Regions from separate parts of the Homo sapiens genome. Here region 2 is linked to region 1. The links come from fine-mapping of genetic effects on plasma protein levels. A gene starts in region 1. The other region holds a variant in brackets. All regions are shown on one strand. Distances are from middle to middle. Region 1 holds the start of CD274 (CD274 molecule). Region 2 overlaps CD274 (CD274 molecule).

Evidence for each region. PIP is the chance, under the fine-mapping model, that this variant and not a neighbour inherited with it causes the effect. The UK Biobank Pharma Proteomics Project read protein levels with antibody pairs (Olink). The fine-mapping took linkage between variants from a reference panel, not from the people measured, so its PIPs are less certain.
Region 2: its variant is fine-mapped to the plasma level of the CD274 protein (UK Biobank, PIP above 0.99).

The regions. Positions count from the first base shown.
Region 1 is chr9:5,449,310-5,452,336 of GRCh38, forward strand. It overlaps CD274 (CD274 molecule), which reads left to right and starts at 1,233. Exons shown (of 7, transcript NM_014143.4): 1 at 1,233-1,287. RefSeq lists enhancers at 1,010-1,059, 1,350-1,509.
Region 2 is chr9:5,463,722-5,466,221 of GRCh38, forward strand. CD274 (CD274 molecule) reads left to right here. Exons shown (of 7, transcript NM_014143.4): 5 at 1,778-1,885. All of the region lies in intron 2 of INCR1 (interferon stimulated noncoding RNA 1), which reads right to left. Among named protein-coding and RNA genes, the nearest start is that of CD274, 14 kb to the left of the region's middle. The variant C/A (reference allele first, on the strand shown) is at 1,409.

The DNA of each region.
Region 1 (3,027 bases):
AGAAGGAACATCTGAGCTGGGCCCAAACCCTATTGCAATTTTATTGGGGCCAAAGAGAACTCCATGCTCCTGCCAAATCAAGGCAGTGTCAGCCTCAATAATTTCCCAGATAAAAATAAAAATCTGTGATACAATCAGAATGTGAAAATTCTTATTTTGGAAGCAAATGTCATAACCAATGCAAGGGCTATCTCAATATTCATTCATTATGCAGTATTTTGAACTGCAGTTGAAATGAATAAGAAGGAAAGGCAAACAACGAAGAGTCCAATTTCTCAATTTAGAAAAAGAGAAAAAAAAGAAAAGGGAGCACACAGGCACGGTGGCTCAAGCCTGTAATATCAGCACTTTGGCGGATCACTTGAGGTCAAGGAGTTCGAGAAAAGAGAGCACCTAGAAGTTCAGCGCGGGATAATACTTAAGTAAATTATGACACCATCGTCTGTCATCTTGGGCCCATTCACTAACCCAAAGCTTTCAAAAGGGCTTTCTTAACCCTCACCTAGAATAGGCTTCCGCAGCCTTAATCCTTAGGGTGGCAGAATATCAGGGACCCTGAGCATTCTTAAAAGATGTAGCTCGGGATGGGAAGTTCTTTTAATGACAAAGCAAATGAAGTTTCATTATGTCGAGGAACTTTGAGGAAGTCACAGAATCCACGATTTAAAAATATATTTCCTATTATACACCCATACACACACACACACACCTACTTTCTAGAATAAAAACCAAAGCCATATGGGTCTGCTGCTGACTTTTTATATGTTGTAGAGTTATATCAAGTTATGTCAAGATGTTCAGTCACCTTGAAGAGGCTTTTATCAGAAAGGGGGACGCCTTTCTGATAAAGGTTAAGGGGTAACCTTAAGCTCTTACCCCTCTGAAGGTAAAATCAAGGTGCGTTCAGATGTTGGCTTGTTGTAAATTTCTTTTTTTATTAATAACATACTAAATGTGGATTTGCTTTAATCTTCGAAACTCTTCCCGGTGAAAATCTCATTTACAAGAAAACTGGACTGACATGTTTCACTTTCTGTTTCATTTCTATACACAGCTTTATTCCTAGGACACCAACACTAGATACCTAAACTGAAAGCTTCCGCCGATTTCACCGAAGGTCAGGAAAGTCCAACGCCCGGCAAACTGGATTTGCTGCCTTGGGCAGAGGTGGGCGGGACCCCGCCTCCGGGCCTGGCGCAACGCTGAGCAGCTGGCGCGTCCCGCGCGGCCCCAGTTCTGCGCAGCTTCCCGAGGCTCCGCACCAGCCGCGCTTCTGTCCGCCTGCAGGTAGGGAGCGTTGTTCCTCCGCGGGTGCCCACGGCCCAGTATCTCTGGCTAGCTCGCTGGGCACTTTAGGACGGAGGGTCTCTACACCCTTTCTTTGGGATGGAGAGAGGAGAAGGGAAAGGGAACGCGATGGTCTAGGGGGCAGTAGAGCCAATTACCTGTTGGGGTTAATAAGAACAGGCAATGCATCTGGCCTTCCTCCAGGCGCGATTCAGTTTTGCTCTAAAAATAATTTATACCTCTAAAAATAAATAAGATAGGTAGTATAGGATAGGTAGTCATTCTTATGCGACTGTGTGTTCAGAATATAGCTCTGATGCTAGGCTGGAGGTCTGGACACGGGTCCAAGTCCACCGCCAGCTGCTTGCTAGTAACATGACTTGTGTAAGTTATCCCAGCTGCAGCATCTAAGTAAGTCTCTTCCTGCGCTAAGCAGGTCCAGGATCCCTGAACGGAATTTATTTGCTCTGTCCATTCTGAGAACCCAAAGGAGTCCTAAAAGAGGAATGGAGGAGCCTAAGAATAAAAATAGTATAATAAAACATTTCTTAGACACATTGACCTTGGCCTATGTCAAAGTTCAGTCTGGGTTTGTCTTATAACACAAGGAGTAAAAGTACCATTGTTCTACCTCTTTTTTTAATACTTGAAAAAAATTTACTGTGGATGCTTTTCTATGAATTAAATAACCTTCTAAAAAATGTTTTCATTGCTGCATTCGATTAGATTGGGTAACTAAATGAAATTAATTCCTCACTGTTGGGTATAAAGGTTATTTACAGTGGTTCTGTCTTAGCCATTCACTGAACTCATTGCATATATATCTCTGGAATATTGCTGATTGTTTCCTTCAAGTAAACTTAGAAGTGTAACTACTTAGTCAAAGAGCCTGAATATTTTAAAGGCCTTTTGAAGAAAACTGAAAATGCTTTCCAGAAAGGATGTATCAGTTGACAATGACAGTCGTCAACAGTATTTAAGGAGAACTATGATACTCTGAAGAAAAACTTAGCCTTTCTCAGTAAAAGTAGGTAGGCAGAGGCCACATGACAGCAGTTAGAGTGTGGTCTTCAAGGAAGTCACAGAAATACTGTGGGGAATTGAAACCCCATGTGGAAAATGTACAAGAGTGTCTCAGTGTGACTGAGAAGGAGGTTGGGCATGGGGTTTCATGGAGTTTAATAAAGTTTGGTCACTTAGTAGAGGTTTAATAAATCAACTGTCTTAATCTTTGATCCTACTTAAGAATTTTTTTTTTGTTTTTGTAGAGATGGGGCTCTTGTTATGTTGCCCAGGCTGTTCTCGAACTCCTAGCCTCAGGCGATCCTCCCTCCTCAGGCTCCAGAAGTCCTGGGATTACTGGCGGGAGCCACCATGCAGGCCTCTTGCTCCTACTTTTGAGAAAGGAAGTTTAACCGGTTTTTTTTGTCTTTTTTTTTTTTTTTTTGAGACAGAGTCTCACTCTGTTGCCCATGCTGGAGTGCAGTGGTGCAATCTCAGCTCACTGCCTCCCGGGTTCAAGTGATTCTCCTGCCTCAGCCTCCCGAGTAGCTGGGACTACAGGCACCTGCCACCACGCCCAGCTAATTTTTGTATTTTTAGTAGAAATGGGGTTTCACCATATTGGCCAGGCTGATCTCGAACTCCTGACCTCAGGTGATCCGCCTGCCTCGGCCTCCCAAAGTGCTGGGATTACAGGCATGAGCCACTGCTCCTGGCTGCTTAACTTTTTCTCTATCT
Region 2 (2,500 bases), 14 kb after region 1:
AATTACTAGACTTCTGTGTGCTTCACTTTCCCTGTAGGATTATAATCTACTGAGCAAGCTTATTGTAAGGGTCAGATTAGCAACAGTGTATGAAAATGATTTGAGACCATTGCCTGCACAAATTCAACTATTTTTTTTTATCTCACTACTCTACAGAAGTAGGTAGGGTGGGAGACAGAGTCTGATGAGAGGCTCAGAATGTGAAAGAAAGTGAGGCGAGTGAGCATGATATTTAATATAAACACAAAGATATTCTGAGAAGAGCTGCTCACTGCCCCCTCCCCCAATACATGTTGATAGGAAAATGCCACGTACTTCAGCAAAAACAACTGAAAAATTAGATAGAAAAGTCAATCAATAGGAAAAGATAATCCAGGACGGTGTTGTGAACAGAAAGAGGGGGAAAAAACTTTAGAAAATGATGGGGATGCTCTTACTGGGGTACGAGTCCTCAGGTATTGAACTGGCTTTCAGTAAAAGCTAGATTAGTGGGTTCCTGCCATTTACAAGCTGTTTTATGACAACTTACTTGTTGGGTGGCCTACAGTAACTCACCTAACTGCACTGAGTCTGTTTCCTCATCTGTAAATTGGGGATTTTTTTTTAAATACCTGGCATGCCTAACTCATAAAGTTGTTCTGAAACTGAAATAAAACATACGTGAACAGGCATTGTAAACTGTAAGTTACGGAAAAAGCTGGCTGTTGTTGTGTCTTTAAAGTTTCACCTGGGTAGTCAAAGATGGATCATGGGTCTCAGTGGAGAGCTGAGCCAGGCAGGAGCTGACTAAGGGTGAGAGGTGGGAGTTAGCAGCCTCTGAACATCTGTGTACCATGGGACCCCCTTTCCTCCTGCATGGTACCCCAGACAAGGAGCCTAGTAAGAGATACTAATGGCTTGTTGTCCAGAGATGTTCAAACTGCAGAGAAAGATAAGACAACAAGCATTGGCCTCCAATCATGATGACAGATAGGAGGAGGTGGGAGCTCCTTAGCAGTGCTGGTTGGCCTTCCATGTTCTACTGTGGGCCATCTCTGCCATGTACTGTAGGCTACTAGCTTCTATATTAAAGAATGCAAGAGGGGCCAGGAGCGGAGGCTCATGCCTGTAATCTCAGCACTTTGGGAGGCCAAGGTGGGCAGATCACTTGAGGTCAGGAGTTTGTGACCAGCCTGGCCAACATGGTGAAACTCTGCCTTTACTAAAAATATAAAAATTAGCTGGGTGTGGTGGTGTGCACCTGTAATCCCAGCTACTCGGGAGACTGAGGCACAAGAATTGCTTGAACCTGGGAGGCGGAAGTTGCAGTGAGCCCAGATTGCGCCACTGCACTCCACCCTGGGCAACAGAGAAAGACTCTGCCTCAAAAAAAAAAAAAAAAAGCAAGAGGAAGTGAAATAATCAAGGC[C/A]GCCATTTAATAGTGAGCAGCCACTCCATGTGGTACTGTGCAAGCACATTATAAATATTAGCCTCACAAGAAATGTATTAGCATTTGTATTTTGTACACTGGTTAAGTATCTTGCCCAAGACCTCAAAACTGGTTAAGGGCAGCAGAATTTAGCCCCAGCACCACCTTTTCAAAGCCTGGGCTTCTCACACTTCTCCATGCTGTTCCCATTTTAACACAGGTATCTCGCCATTCCAGCCACTCAAACTTTGGCATTTAAGAAAATTATCCTAAAGCTAAACTAAACTTCAAGGATGACCATTCTCCTGACCCCTTCCCATCAAAATTTTATCTTTAGTCAGTTTGTTTTCGTTTTGTTTTGTTTTTCAGAACTACCTCTGGCACATCCTCCAAATGAAAGGACTCACTTGGTAATTCTGGGAGCCATCTTATTATGCCTTGGTGTAGCACTGACATTCATCTTCCGTTTAAGAAAAGGTAGTATTTCCTTAATTGCAGTGGTCTCCACTGGGGGTGAGGAAGGGGTGAGAATTGGATCATGGCTGCAAGGAAACCCGACTTAACCTCTGCAAGGTGGTGCAAAGGCATTCCACTGTTCAACAGCAATTATATTGAAGCTGAGTGGGATCACTGGGTGAAGATGAAGCGTAAGGGGTGAGGGGCAGGAGAATGGGTATGGATGGAGGTAGAAGATGCAGTGTCATACAGTTTTTTTCTATCATGAAAATAACCACAGACTTACAGAAGAGAAAGAGCTAAAATGCCCGTCATTTTCAGTTGCATTTTAGTCTTGCATTAGTTGCAACCAGCTGGTTTCTGGGTACCCTAAGTAATAAAAATAGTTCCTCTGTAGAACTGTAGTATGTTTACCATAGAGTATTTTGCAAAATTTTTGGTAGAGGATGTTACATAATTTGCATGTGTTCATTTCTCCATTTACCTGTGGGAACAATTAAAATCCAGGAAAATGAGTATATTCAAATAATTTCCTCCCATTTAAGATGAGTCAGAGTAAATAATTCCTCCAATACTTAGAGAAGTATACCAAGAGATCCAGTGATGGTATAGAGTTGTCTGATGTTAAATAGGGAA